Homo sapiens: one gene and its partner. The protein of the gene in region 2 interacts with the protein of the main gene of each other region in a biochemical or structural test. Each region holds a gene or a part of one and is shown on either strand. Other genes may lie near its edges.

Region 1 (7,034 bases), on a different chromosome or scaffold from region 2:
CTGAAGTGCAGTGTTGCGATCTCGGCTCACTGAAAGCTCTGCCTCCCGGGTTCATGCCATTCTCCTGCCTCAGCCTCCCGAGTAGCTGGGACTACAGGCGCCTGGCTAATTTTTTTTTTTTTTTTTTTGTATTTTTAGTAGAGACGGGGTTTCACCATGTTAGCCAGGATGGTCTCAATCTCCTGACCTCGTGATCCTCCCTTCTCGGCCTCCCAAAGTGCTGGGATTACATTGAGCGCAATTTCTTGATCTCCACCTCTCTCCTAAGATTCACATATCTCTCATACCCATTAGCTTTGATTTACTGCCCTTATTATCTCTTCCCATTTTCTCTCTACCACCCTCCCTGGTTCTTCAATGTTTTATGGATTTGTAATAATTCAATAACAAGTAGGATGTTATGTTCTCACTTATAAGTGGGAGCTGAATGATGCAAACACATAGACACATGGAGGCGAGCAACATATATGGGGCCTGTCTGAGAGTGGGAGTGACAGAAGGGAGAGCATCAGGAAGAATAGCTAGTGGATGCTGGGCTTAATCCCTAGGTGATGGGATGATCTGTGCAGCAAACCACCATGGCACACATTTACCTATGTAACAAACCTGCACCTCCTGCACATGTCCCCTTGAACTTAAAACAAAAGTTGGGAAAAAAAGAGTAGGATGGTAAACATCATTCGTGTAAACCCTACCCATCAAAGAAAGGAATCCATGTGGTTCTCTTGTCACCAGGATGTTTCTATCTTTTCTCCTTTTCTTTCCTTTCATCCAAGGCTGAAGGTATTGAGCAAGAAAAGACTTTCAGTTCTATGACCTGTGCCTCAGGTAAGAGTCCATCTTCATAATCATAGTGAGATCAAAACCACAAAGGGGTATAAACCTCAAGTTACAATGCACATTCATTTTATCTCCCAGTTTTCAGAGTGTTCCATGAAAGTCAGCATAATACTAAATATTTCTTTATGTATGTTTTACAGATGAAGACATTGAGCCCAAGAGAGCAAGTTAATGTGACTCAGGTGGTACAGACAGGACTAATACCTGGGCTTTCTTGGTTCATACGTAGCCCTTTTACCTGGATAGCCCAGTGGCTGCTCACTGACAAGCCCAGCTGCAGAAGCTTAGAGTGTCCCAGGATGAGGTAGAAAGAGAGCAGGGTTAGCCGGGTGTGGTGGCTCACATTTGTAATCCCAGCATTTTGGGAGGCTGAGGCGGGAGGATGACTTGAGGTCAGGGGTTTGAGAACAGCCTGGCCAACATGGTGAAACCCTGTCTCTACGAAAAAAACAAAAATTAGCCAGGCCTGGTGGCGGGCGCCTGTAGTCCCAGCTACATGGGGGGCTGGGGCACGAGAATCGCTTGAGCCGGGCAGGGGGAGGTTGCAGTGAGCCGAAATCACACCACTGCGCTCCAACCTGGGCAACAGAGTGAGACTCTTAAAAAAACAAACAAGCAAACAACAACAACAACAAAAACTAAAGACAGCAGGGTCATGATAAGTTTGAATCCCAAGAGATAGTCTCTAAAACAGCTGCTGACAAAACATATAGCATTTCCTACCCATCTCACTAAAAATGTGTGTTTTCCGTGTAGAAAATAATTTACATTTAAGTTCATCATATCATTAAGAAGTAGTTGTAGCTTTTATACAGAACCGCCACATTATTAGTTCTATGTCCACAGTGTATACAGCACTGTATTTGTCATTTGAGAAGGACTAATTTAAGGTATATTCATGTTATCTATTTATAAACATGGGAATCCATTCAAATATAGTGTAAGGGAGGCAGTAAAATAACTTGTATTATCATGGTTATAAGTCTTAATATTGCTACAAAAGTGGAGAGCGATAGTTCCCCCACTAAGTCTTAGGCTTCTTTTAGAAAGCTACTGAGCACAGCCATGCAAAAATATAGTTAAATGAGAAGAGGAAGGACTCTGGAAGTCACACAGTGCCAAAAGCAATTAGACTATCAAAGGTAGTCTCATCATTAAGTCAAATTCTTATTCCTTGCACCCAGAGTTCCACAAGGAGATATAATAATATTACTGCTAACTCTAATAATAAAATAACTGCAATAATAACAATTGCTCACATTCGTTGAAATTGAATATGTTGCAGATACTGTTCTGAATGTTTTACATGTGTTTTTTCCTCAAATCATCACAATTTACCCAAGGTCACAAAGCAGGGCCAGTACCATATCCAGGGAGTGTGGCTCTGAAGCTCTCACTACATTATAATCACTAAATTATATTGTAATCATAGATGTCCTCCTTTAACATGGGCTGTCTGTTTCTAAAGGTGCTAATGTGTCTGAGCAGTTGTCCTTGAAGCTCCCATCAAATGTGGTCAAAGAATCTGCCAGAGCTTCTTTCTCAGTTCTGGGTGAGTCACCTTCCATTTAGTAAACCTGGGCCAAAAGAGTTGCCACTGTACATCTTATCTACGTATTTGTATTTGAATTATCAAGTTCTTGATAGCTGCTATTCTTTTTTATTTTTTTGAGATGGAGTCTCGCTCTGTCGCCCAGGCTGGAGTACAGTGACGTGATCTCGGCTCACTGCAAGCTCCGCCTCCTGGGTTCACGCCATTCTCCTGCCTCAGCCTCCCGAGTAGCTGGGACTACAGGCGCCCGCCACCACGCCCGGCTAATTTTTTTGTATTTTTAGTAGAGACGGGGTTTCACCGTGTTCACCAGGATGGTCTCGATATCCTGACCTCATGATCCGCCCGCCTCGGCCTCCCAAAGTGCTGGGATTACAGGCGATAGCTGCTATTCTTATTAGGATTCTGGAAGTCACACTCTGTGTATATAACTTTTCTCTTACCTAAATGATAGACTCTGAATATAAAGGCCATTTTTGTTAATAATGTTGGCTATTTATGAACTGAAATTATTCTGACATCTAATCTTTCACATTCCCCAGGTGACATATTAGGTTCTGCTATGCAAAATATACAAAATCTCCTCCAGATGCCATATGGCTGTGGAGAACAGAACATGGTCCTATTTGCTCCTAACATCTATGTCTTGAACTATCTGAATGAAACCCAGCAGCTGACGCAGGAGATCAAGGCCAAGGCCGTTGGCTATCTCATCACTGGTAAGTGAGACAGAGAAAAATTTACTTTGTTACTCTAATGAAACTTTTCCCAATTAAGCTTCAGTTATATCATCAAATATTAACCCATGATGATAATTTTTATGAAAACAACAATCTTCCCACACTCTAATAGGATGTTGTGTTTGATCTATCCATAACATTCACAAAACTATGGCAGATCACAGAAGGTCATAAAATGTCCATGGCGCCTGGATGCATGAGCCTAAACATATGGATGGCCTGCCTTTCTTTAATGCTTCATGAACAATCTGAAGCCTTCCATTTCAGGTTACCAGAGACAGCTGAACTACAAACACCAAGATGGCTCCTACAGCACCTTTGGGGAACGATATGGCAGGAACCAGGGCAACACTTGGTAAGAAAGAAAATCTATTCTGAGTTTCAACTATGAGTTCAGAACGTGCACATAGATTACCTGTCTTAGTCCATTTTCTGTTGCTTATAACAGAATACCTGAAACTAGGTAATTTATAAAGAAAAGAAATTTATTTCTTATAGCTATGAAGGCTGATAAGTCAAAAGTCTAGGGGCCGCATCTAGTTGAGAGTCTTCTTGCTGGTGTGGACTCTGAGGAGTCCCACGGTGATGCAGGGCATCATATGACTAGAGGATTGAATGGGCTCACTTGGGTCTCTCCTTCTCTTCTTTTCTTTTCTTTGTTTTACTTTGTAGAGACTGGGCTAGCATCTCCTCCTCTTCTTATGAAGCCACCAGTCCAACTGTCATGATAGCCCTTTAATCTAGGAATAGATTCATCCATTCATGAGAGCAGAACCCTCATGAGCCAATCACCTCTTAAAGGCTCCACCTCTCAATACTACCACATTGGGGATTAAGTTTTAACATGAGTTTTGGTGGAGAAACAATTTCTAAACCATAATGTTACCTTATTTAATTCTTATAGCTACCCTGGGAAGTGAGAGTTATTAGCTTCATTTTACAGAGGAGAAAACATATTCAGTGTGGATAAATAAATGTGTCAGGAGCAAACATCTAATAAGTGGCAAAATTGAGAACACTTTTAGGTTGATTTTTTTAATCCAATATACCCAGACCCTCTTCCTTCTCATGTTGCTAAGGGAACATTATAGGTTTGTAACTTGCCCCCTTAAATTGTTGCTCAGCCCTAAGAGGTGTTAGAAAAATGCTAGAATAAAACCACAACCATTACTGGCAGAGCATACCTTACTACCTTCTACTAGATGATATCCTTTCTCTCTCTCTCTTTGTAGTTTTACCACACAGGCAAACACAGGGGAAAAAAGTGGAAGGGCAGGATGATGGAGGGAAATATTTACTGAAGCAGAACATTAGAAGTTAGCTGATTAGAGTTAAAACTACAGAAAGTAAGCTAAGAAATCTAGGAAAGGAAATAAATTCATAGAGCCCACAGTGTAAAAGCAAATGACTTAGTTAACCAACCAAGAAAACTGGAAGGAACCTGAACCTCTGAAGTGGCATAGAAATGCTTTAGGAAGCAAGGACAAGCTGGTAATGAATTGAACAACATGTGGCAGCAAAAAAAAAAAAAAAAAGAAAAGAAAAGAAAAAAGAAAAAGAGATGTCTAAGCTAAAAAGAAAAAGTCTCCAAACTCTCAGTAACAGCTGATTGACTTTCTTGGGTGCACACTGTGATGGGGGAGCCTGTGTGTACAAAACAGAGCAGTAAAGTGCTCAATGAAAAGAGCCTCAGCACTGCATTTTTCCTCCCCCTAGGCTCACAGCTTTTGTACTGAAGACTTTCGCCCAGGCTCGATCCTACATCTTCATTGATGAAGCACACATTACCCAATCTCTCACGTGGCTCTCCCAGATGCAGAAGGACAATGGCTGTTTCAGGAGCTCTGGGTCACTGCTCAACAATGCCATAAAGGTGAACTGTTCCACAAACTTCTGAGCCTGACACACATCAACATAACATCCCCCAGGGGTGAAGGGAGGAAGGAGGCACAAGGAAATTGCAAAGATGAAGTCCTGGATGATGTGGGATGGCATCAGGGAAAGAGTATTACACTTTCTACAGAGAAGGAAGAAATTGGGCCAGATGCAGTGGATCACACGTAGAATCACAGCACTTTGGGAGGCCAAGGCAGGTGGATCACTTGAGCCCAGGAGTATAAGACTAGCCTGGGCAACATAGCAAGACCCAGTCTCTACAAAAAACATTTTACAAAATTAGCCAGGCATGGTGGCCTGTGCCTGTAGTTGCAGCTACTTGACAAGCTGAGGCAGCAAAATTGCTTGAGCCTAGGAGCTTGAGGCTGTCATGTGTGATAGTGCTACTGCACTCCAGCCTGAGCTACAGAGCAAGAACCTGTCGAGAGAGAGAGAGAGAAGGAAATGGTATACTTTGAATGGAAACAGATACTGAGGAGCGTTTCCATCAAACAACAGAAGAGAATATACTAACACTTGGCACTGGAATTAATCAAATCAATGTTGTATTCACAGGGAGGTGTAGAAGATGAAGCGACCCTCTCCGCCTATGTTACTATTGCCCTTCTGGAAATTCCTCTCCCAGTCACTGTAGGTACCAGCTCAATCCCATTCCCTACCATGAAAACTGTAGATTTGCTGTCTGGAATGCCACCCTGCTAAGGGTTGAGTCTCAAGTATCTTTTGGTTCAATGATGAGGGATTTCTCAGACTGATAAGCTCTTTGGTTGATGCATTAAGAGAGATTTACACTTGCCCAGTAATGCCCATAGACTATGTATCAAAACCAATCCTAAAAACAGGTTCTCTAGTCTTATTCTTTAAGACTGAACTATAAAGGGAAGAGATCGAAATATTTTTCTATTTAAATATGATGAATATCTAGCTGTCTGCCTATCTGTCTGAAATCTATTAATAACATCTGACTGTCAATATCCAGCTCTCAGCTTGCTCTGCCCTCTATTCACCCTAGTTTGACACAACCACATTTTGCCTTTACAGAACCCTATTGTTCGCAATGCCCTGTTCTGCCTGGAGTCAGCCTGGAATGTAGCAAAGGAGGGGACCCATGGGAGCCATGTCTACACCAAGGCATTGCTGGCCTATGCTTTTTCCCTACTGGGAAAGCAAAATCAGAATAGAGAAATACTGAACTCACTTGATAAGGAAGCTGTGAAAGAAGGTGAGAGCACTTATAAGTGGGAGCTGAACAATGAGAACACATAGACACAGGGAGGGGAACAGCACACATTGGGGCCTGTCTGGGAGGTGCGGAGAGGGAGAGCATCAGGATAGATAGCTAATGCATGGGGGACCTAATAACCAGGTGATGGGCTGATACATGCAGCAAACCACCATGGCACACCTATGTAACAAACCTGCACATCCTGCACATGTACCCCAGAACTTAAAATAAAATAACATTTAAAAAATAAATAAATAAATAGATAAATAATAAAAGTTTTTTTAAAAACTGTGCAAAAAAAGGTGAGAGCAAACAGCAAATGGTACCAAATTTCCATTTCCATTTACACTGATTCTACAAAAAGAAGAAATATATTCCTTCTGAAATCCACAAGCTTCATCTGTAATTCCTTAGCCAAGTCATACATTGTGAGATCAGAGCACCTCTTATAAAACTGTCTTCTCTGGGATTGCATATGTTACACAGAGCAGAACATAATAGACATAATGCTGCAGATAAATAATGCAGTTTTATTTCTACTTGCTAAAACCAATATAATAGACAAATAGATTCATTTTCTCATGATTTCTCTCTACTTACTTGAATGAAAAGAGGTACAACAGCTCTTCCATACCCCCTAAATTCCCACCCAATGCCGTCCTGGCTGCACCATGCTCACTTCATGCTCTGGGCTTCTCCTAAGCTAGTGCTGCTATAGTCTCCTTTCAGCTACCATCATAATTATCTACCAGGATCTCATCAGCCACGCTGAGATGTTCTC
Region 2 (8,033 bases):
GTGCAAGTAGCATTTTCAAAATGTATCTCTGATGGTGATTTTTAGAATATGCTGCATAGGCAAAGGAAAAAAAAGGTCTTGGAAGTATGCAAAATATAATATCACCACTGTAACCGAAAAAAGGTGAAAGACTAACAGATGTATTCTTACAGATTTAAAGTGGCTTCATTTTAAATAAGGTAATTATCTGGGAGAGTCCTGATTTACCCCTGTTGTCTTAGTGTATCAATGAGTGGCATCCTCTTTACTGCAAAAAATGTTTGGATTTGTGTGACAAATGATGTAGCTACCCTAGTTATGAGAACTTTATTTTCTACTAAGATTTCAAATAATCATCAGTGAGAGTTTGTGGTCTGTAGTCTCCCGTTTTATAAATTATAACCATCTATATAGCTGTGCTTTTCAAAATACTTACATACTTAGGCTTTTAAAAATACTTATTTACTAATTTTTCCCTCTATCATAAACTACACTGAGGTTTTCTTTTTTTATGCAATTACTATTGACCCTTGGTTTTTATTTATTTATTTTTTTTTTAATTGCAGGCTAATCGAGGCAGCAGAACGGCATATTTGTTTGAAATGTAGGTTGGTAATTTTGGCAGTGGAAATTTAGACATTTGGAATTTTACCCAATCTATGAAGCCCACTGAGATGATGACAGACACATAAATTCATTTAAAGACCATGTATCTTTAAAAAAAAAAAAAAAACTTTTGTTATATTATACTCATTTTAATTATGAGAACACAGTCATATTTTTCTCTATCACTCACCTTCTCTTTTTCTTTCTCATCTTTTGTGTTTATTTTTAGTTGGCCAAAACACTCTCTCCATTTCTCCCCAGCAACCTCATTCTGGTTTCTTGCTTTGTGAAGTCTATCTGTGAACTTCTGTGGTGACAGAGTAAATGAAGGAGGAGTAGAGATTCTGTAAAGGTGAGTGTCAAGTACTGCCCTAAAAAATAAGGAAAATTCTGCTGCTGGTTTCTTTTTGTCAACATTAGGATTTTGTTAAGCACTTATCCATAGCGTTATGCTGTGTCCCAACTATTACCATATGTTCATTTATTTATATCAGTTACTAAATGCTATCTTAGTGGGTGAATTTCACCAGGGGCAAGAAACCAGAGGCTGCAGCTACAGGGATGACATAGCACAGGCCACTGTGAGACTGCCTCCCAAAGAAAGACTTTCCTGGAGAGCTAAAATTGTAGAGTTATGAGTGGCCCAAAAGCCACAAGCAGTAATCAATCAACTAATCATAATTCCAAAGGGTGAGATAATGTTCCCACAGTGTATCATTAGTGTGATGAGTTTATCTCTTTAAAGCCTCACAACCTGCTGATATGCTGTGGTTTTTCTTGGTCCTATCTCTTTATCTTTTACCACCTCTGATCTCTTTAAACCCACCCTGTTTCCATTTTCCTCCCCGCCCATTGTTTCCTCATTTTTCCTTAACACTTCTTCCTTAGATTAACCTTTAAATACAAATGGAAATAATAATCGGATTATTTTTTGTAAGGAAACCACCTTTCTGTTTCATTATTCATAACTAGAATAATGAAATAAAGCTGTTTATAGAAATGCATCTAGAACATGAGACAAAATTGATATAGACCAAACATTGTTCTTGAATAGTGGTATCAAATATAAAATTATAAATAAAATCTTAAAAGACTTTTGGTGTATTTTCATATTAAAGGGTTATTTTGCATTTATCAAGTATCACTATTTGGGGGGAAATGTAATCAATTACCGTCGTTCCATGTATTTCTTTTTTTCACCTCCTGATTTTTCATGCTTGAAACCGTTCTGGAAAGCTTCCAGAATTGTTACAAATGAAGTTATGCTTTGGTCAATGTTAGTAAGGACCTATGATCCATAGGCGTAAAACTCCAGGACAGGGATGAGTAGTTTTGTTTTCTTCAGCCTCTTGTAGAAATCCCACATTACTTAAGTGAATAGACCCATTGATGAGTGGAGAATGGCTAAGAGTGGAAACAGCTCCACTCTCTACCTCTGTAATTTCAAAACAAAAGATTCCATTTGAGGGCTTTAATAAGAGACTTTAATCGTGAATGCTTAACTGAACTTTGATAGTCATTTAGCATTTTATTCACCAAAAGTGTATTTTCTTGTCCTTCCCTCCTATAATTACTGGGGGCAAAATACCATAATATTTAAAATGTGCCTACAGAAACTACTAGGAGGCAGAACTAGAAGCAAATTCTTCTTGGGTTCTTTCCTGGCTTTTCAGAGAGAGCGAGAGAGAGAGAGAGAGAAGGCCAGATATTTTTATTATAAATTCCTTGACAGAAATAAAGACATGATAGGATAAGAAACTCACAGAGTCAGTGAGTAACTTGTTCAGGATCACAAAGCCAGAAAGTGACAGAAATCTGAACCCAAAAAACCATGACTGGAGCCTGCCCTTTAAACCACTGTGCTCTCCTGCCTCCTTGAAGTAATCAAGATGGGTGTATATCATTTAAATACCCTTTTACCATGAAGACTGTAGAGACCCCGGCACATAAGACCTCCATTAAATATAGAGATGAAAAGGCATTATAAGAGCCATTTAATAGAAGAAATGATTCATTTACGGTTACCAGGGAGACAGCTCTAGCAATCTTGCCGGTTAGGTCTTCAAAGAACTGATCATTTGAGAGGTGGAAAGGGGCTCCTCCTCTCCTGCTATACTCACTTACTGCACTTACCCATTCCAGAAGCTTTTACCAATACCTCCCGTCTTACCCTCCTGGGCTTTGGGGAAATTAAAGTAGCCTCTTATGAGTAAGTCAGGGGTCTCAGGTCTAAGGAGTTGTTAAGTGAGCAATAGGTACTCAGTAAACTAAGTATTATGAACAAAAGTGTGTATGTCTATGTCAGGAAGAGGGGTGGCCATCAGAATTTATGGCTTGCGCTGTTTTCCTAGAAGTGATGTAAATGAACTTTTGCTACTCTATCCACACTCTAATCTGAATCTACTTAAGGTGCATCAGTGTCTGTACCAAGAAGGTTGTCTATAAACATGAAAGATGCTCACTGGCTTGTGGAAGCTGAACCTGTATCCTCAGCAAAATACAGTGATAGCTAATTCAGGTAACCAGCCATATTCCACAGCAGCATCTTCTCTCAGTAGCTCTGGTTTGGAGCTCCTGCTCTGTGTCTATAATGGCCACAGGTGTAAGAATATTCACTTTTTGTCCAATCTGTAGAGCTAGCCTACTGCAGTTCTCAAACTGAACTCAGAGGGAGGACCTAACTGGATGAAACTACTAGTCTGACAGTAGCGCCTCTTGATTATCTTTTTCTTGGGCTACTGGGATGGTAGCTTTGCTTCAACTCAAAACTGGTATCAAGGAAAGGAACCTGCTGGTGCTGATTTATACATAATTTTTAGAATTATTCAGAAGTGGGTTGGAACAATTATTTTATTCCAGAGTTTTTCAATGTGTGATAATGGAAAAAATTCTGTATTCAAGGGAGTTTGGAAAATGCTGGGTTAAAAGAGTGAAAAGGTTTTCTCTTCTACAGGAGTTTCAGAGCCTTTAACATGATAATGTTCCAGAATGAGGAATCTAAGAGGACAGGAGAGTACCCAGTATCTCCCAAACTTGTTTGACTCCAGAATTCCTGTTTGTCAGAACATATTCTGGGACCATTGTTTCTCAGAAGTACATAGTAGGTAAGAACATAGTGGATCCTGACTGCAAAAATCCAGCTCTACCACTTACTGTGGTCTCGAACAAAGTACTTAACTTCTTTGTACCTCAGTCTCCTCATCTGCCAGATATGGATAATAAGACCCACTTTATAGGTTCATAGTGAAGATTAAATGACCATACACAACACACATCAAATTACTAAGTGTAGTATATGTTAGCTATTATTATTTTATTTATTCAGTGCTCTACTAATAACCTAGGCCCCATACACAACTGAAGTATAAATTCCAAAAGTGATAGAAAGTTCTTTGTGACTTTTCTGAACTCAGGAACATCTGAAGTAGAGAACAGTATAGAGATCTTGGGTTTGGGAGTACATTCAACAGAGTTTCCAGTTTAAATCATCTGTCTGGTCAGTATGGCTGCAGAGTCATGCCGAAATGAAAATGTTGACTTTGAGTAACTAAAGGTAAAATAAAAGAAAAAGGGAAGGTGGAACAGTGGTAAGAGTTATTCTTGTATTCATCTAATTTAGACTTAGTTGAAATTGAAAATGTCAAGTTATGAGTAGTGTAGAACAGTAGACATCAAACACTTAAAATTCCAGCTTCCTGGATTAATGCTATGGAAAGAATGAAGTTGGTTGATAATGTTTAGCCTAGCAAGAAGGTGAAGAAGAAAGCCATACAAGAAGTGGCTTAGGCAGCAAATTATAAAGGTGACCATTCATTCAAATCAGTAAAACAAACAAGTATACCTTATTCTTTAGGTAAAATTGATGGATCTCTGTTTTCCAGCAGTTCACAAACAGAGGGGTACATTGTAAACAACAAACTAACAAAATAAATTCTGGGATGGCAACCTGCTAAGGTATCCCAGAAAATAAGAGGTAGGACATGAATTTAAAAGATTGGAAGGTATGTCTTCAGTACTGGCCTGGCCCTGAGTAGACTAGTGCTCCCTCCCATAGGGGTGCGTGTGCACACATAATACAGGAGGGAAGCCTTCCCTTCTAGAGCAAGTGATTCAGCTTGGGAGGCTGTGACTGAGCTACACTAAGTAAAAACGGGAGACTTGATTGTCCTTCCTTCAACAGACCTGTCCAAAATGACTGGAAAGTAAATACCGTAAATCACTGTTGTCAGGGCGCACATTCCACCTCCTTCCTCCCTTACCCACAGCGGTCCTCATTTCCACACTCCCTCAACGGTTCGGGGAGAGCTCGTGGTCTAAGTAACGAGAGGACTTCTGACTGTAATCCTAGCACGTCACTTTGTTGAAGGCAGACACGTGGTTCAGAGAGAACTTATAAATCTCCCCTCCCCGGCAAGATCGTGATGTTATCTGCTGGCAGCAGAAGGTTCGCTCCGAGCGGAGCTCCAGAAGCTCCTGACAAGAGAAAGACAGATTGAGATAGAGATAGAAAGAGAAAGAGAGAAAGAGACAGCAGAGCGAGAGCGCAAGTGAAAGAGGCAGGGGAGGGGGATGGAGAATATTAGCCTGACGGTCTAGGGAGTCATCCAGGAACAAACTGAGGGGCTGCCCGGCTGCAGACAGGAGGAGACAGAGAGGATCTATTTTAGGGTGGCAAGTGCCTACCTACCCTAAGCGAGCAATTCCACGTTGGGGAGAAGCCAGCAGAGGTTGGGAAAGGGTGGGAGTCCAAGGGAGCCCCTGCGCAACCCCCTCAGGAATAAAACTCCCCAGCCAGGGTGTCGCAAGGGCTGCCGTTGTGATCCGCAGGGGGTGAACGCAACCGCGACGGCTGATCGTCTGTGGCTGGGTTGGCGTTTGGAGCAAGAGAAGGAGGAGCAGGAGAAGGAGGGAGCTGGAGGCTGGAAGCGTTTGCAAGCGGCGGCGGCAGCAACGTGGAGTAACCAAGCGGGTCAGCGCGCGCCCGCCAGGGTGTAGGCCACGGAGCGCAGCTCCCAGAGCAGGATCCGCGCCGCCTCAGCAGCCTCTGCGGCCCCTGCGGCACCCGACCGAGTACCGAGCGCCCTGCGAAGCGCACCCTCCTCCCCGCGGTGCGCTGGGCTCGCCCCCAGCGCGCGCACACGCACACACACACACACACACACACACGCACGCACACACGTGTGCGCTTCTCTGCTCCGGAGCTGCTGCTGCTCCTGCTCTCAGCGCCGCAGTGGAAGGCAGGACCGAACCGCTCCTTCTTTAAATATATAAATTTCAGCCCAGGTCAGCCTCGGCGGCCCCCCTCACCGCGCTCCCGGCGCCCCTCCCGTCAGTTCGCCAGCTGCCAGCCCCGGGACCTTTTCATCTCTTCCCTTTTGGCCGGAGGAGCCGAGTTCAGATCCGCCACTCCGCACCCGAGACTGACACACTGAACTCCACTTCCTCCTCTTAAATTTATTTCTACTTAATAGCCACTCGTCTCTTTTTTTCCCCATCTCATTGCTCCAAGAATTTTTTTCTTCTTACTCGCCAAAGTCAGGGTTCCCTCTGCCCGTCCCGTATTAATATTTCCACTTTTGGAACTACTGGCCTTTTCTTTTTAAAGGAATTCAAGCAGGATACGTTTTTCTGTTGGGCATTGACTAGATTGTTTGCAAAAGTTTCGCATCAAAAACAACAACAACAAAAAACCAAACAACTCTCCTTGATCTATACTTTGAGAATTGTTGATTTCTTTTTTTTATTCTGACTTTTAAAAACAACTTTTTTTTCCACTTTTTTAAAAAATGCACTACTGTGTGCTGAGCGCTTTTCTGATCCTGCATCTGGTCACGGTCGCGCTCAGCCTGTCTACCTGCAGCACACTCGATATGGACCAGTTCATGCGCAAGAGGATCGAGGCGATCCGCGGGCAGATCCTGAGCAAGCTGAAGCTCACCAGTCCCCCAGAAGACTATCCTGAGCCCGAGGAAGTCCCCCCGGAGGTGATTTCCATCTACAACAGCACCAGGGACTTGCTCCAGGAGAAGGCGAGCCGGAGGGCGGCCGCCTGCGAGCGCGAGAGGAGCGACGAAGAGTACTACGCCAAGGAGGTTTACAAAATAGACATGCCGCCCTTCTTCCCCTCCGAAAGTAAGTACTTATTTTGACTTCCATCCCCTGAGGTTTAGCTCTGCCCGGAGCTCTCAAAACCGCAGCAGCTCCCGGGATCGCCCTTCCCTCTCGCGGTTCCCGTTCGCTCTTTTCCCGTTCTCCTGTCCTTCACCCCACCACCTCCTTTTCAGTTGTATGCTTGAGGCCATCAGGCTTTAAAATGTTTACTTTCTACTTTATTTTCTCCATCTTTCCCTTCCCCCTAACAATTCGGTGCTTTAAAAGGCGTTATTCTCTTTTTCTCTTCCCTGAAGTTCTTTAGTCGGCCACCAGCTAGGAGTCAGCCCCACTCTGTCAAACTAGAGGTGCTCCCAGGGGCAGAGTTAAACTGAGGAATCTTGGTAGGTTTGTTTTCTTTGCTCCGATTGGCGTGGAGCGCGCCGAACTGGTGCACGAAGGGTTAAAAAAAGTGTCTCAAAACTAGCCTCTCCGGAAGGCGCCCCCTTTCCGTGCTGACCTATCAGCTGGTTCCCCAAGCCTTCTCTATTGTCTCTAACTACCCTAAAAATGTCAGCATCGCCGAGACAAAACCCGGTTTGGAGACCCCTCGAGAAACCTACCTGGCCCTCAGTCCTTGATGTATCATTTGCTATCACTAGGTGTTTCATTACCCAAAGGCAAAATCCTATAACCACGTTCCCTTTTCACTTAACCTGGAGTGTAGAAAGGACAACTCCGTTTCTGACTGTGTTTTAAAAGGTTTTGTTCACGTTATTTTTCAGAATACACTCAAACCTGCCTTCTTCACATCTCCAGTGTAGCAGATCATTTTTCTTACGGGTCTGTTATCCTGCTCCTGCCTTTTCGTAGGCTTCCTGCAGTTACTTCAATGCATTCCTAAAACTCAGAGTAGACGACAGCCGTATTTTTTTTTTTTTTTTTTACTGGCTTCTCTGAGAACAGTGTCCTCAAAACCAGCTGGCATACAGTAGCAATAGGAGTGAAATGATTTATTGCAGAGGAAGGGAACAGACAGTGTAGAATGATTTCAGAGTTCTTAAAAAAAGAAAAAAAAGAAAGAAAGAAAGAAAAGGGGCAGCAGCATCCACTTGATACCTGAGAGGGTTAAATACCAGGAAGAAGAAAAAGAAAAGTGGGGGCGGGGTGGGGGGAACCTCTTCAACATTTGTGTATTCCAAATCCCAAGTCATAAACTTTTCATTGGTTGCTCATTTCTCTCCTCCCCTTTCCATGCCCTGTATACTTGCTGGCTGCCTTTGCAAAGTCTCTGTGTCTTGCCTAAATAGATAATATAGCCATCTTGGTAATTTTCTCTTAAAGGTTCTAGTTGCAGG

Evidence for each region. Proteins that work in one complex are often made in the same cells at the same time.
Region 1: the proteins of TGFB2 (region 2) and PZP form a complex in vitro, tested with the Homo sapiens proteins (one study listed by BioGRID).

Annotation. Positions count from the first base shown.
Region 1 is NC_000012.12:9,156,391-9,163,424, reverse strand, and holds part of PZP (pregnancy zone protein precursor), read left to right. Parts: intron 1-776; coding exon 777-828; intron 829-980; exon of another isoform or gene 981-1,144; intron 1,145-2,308; coding exon 2,309-2,392; exon of another isoform or gene 2,393-2,393; intron 2,394-2,934; coding exon 2,935-3,111; intron 3,112-3,399; coding exon 3,400-3,487; intron 3,488-4,848; coding exon 4,849-5,005; intron 5,006-5,583; coding exon 5,584-5,658; intron 5,659-6,069; coding exon 6,070-6,250; intron 6,251-7,034. UniProt on the Homo sapiens protein: Is able to inhibit all four classes of proteinases by a unique 'trapping' mechanism. This protein has a peptide stretch, called the 'bait region' which contains specific cleavage sites for different proteinases.
Region 2 is NC_000001.11:218,340,331-218,348,363, forward strand, and holds the start of TGFB2 (transforming growth factor beta-2 proprotein isoform 2 preproprotein), read left to right. Parts: upstream 1-5,005; 5' UTR 5,006-6,371; coding exon 6,372-6,717; intron 6,718-8,033.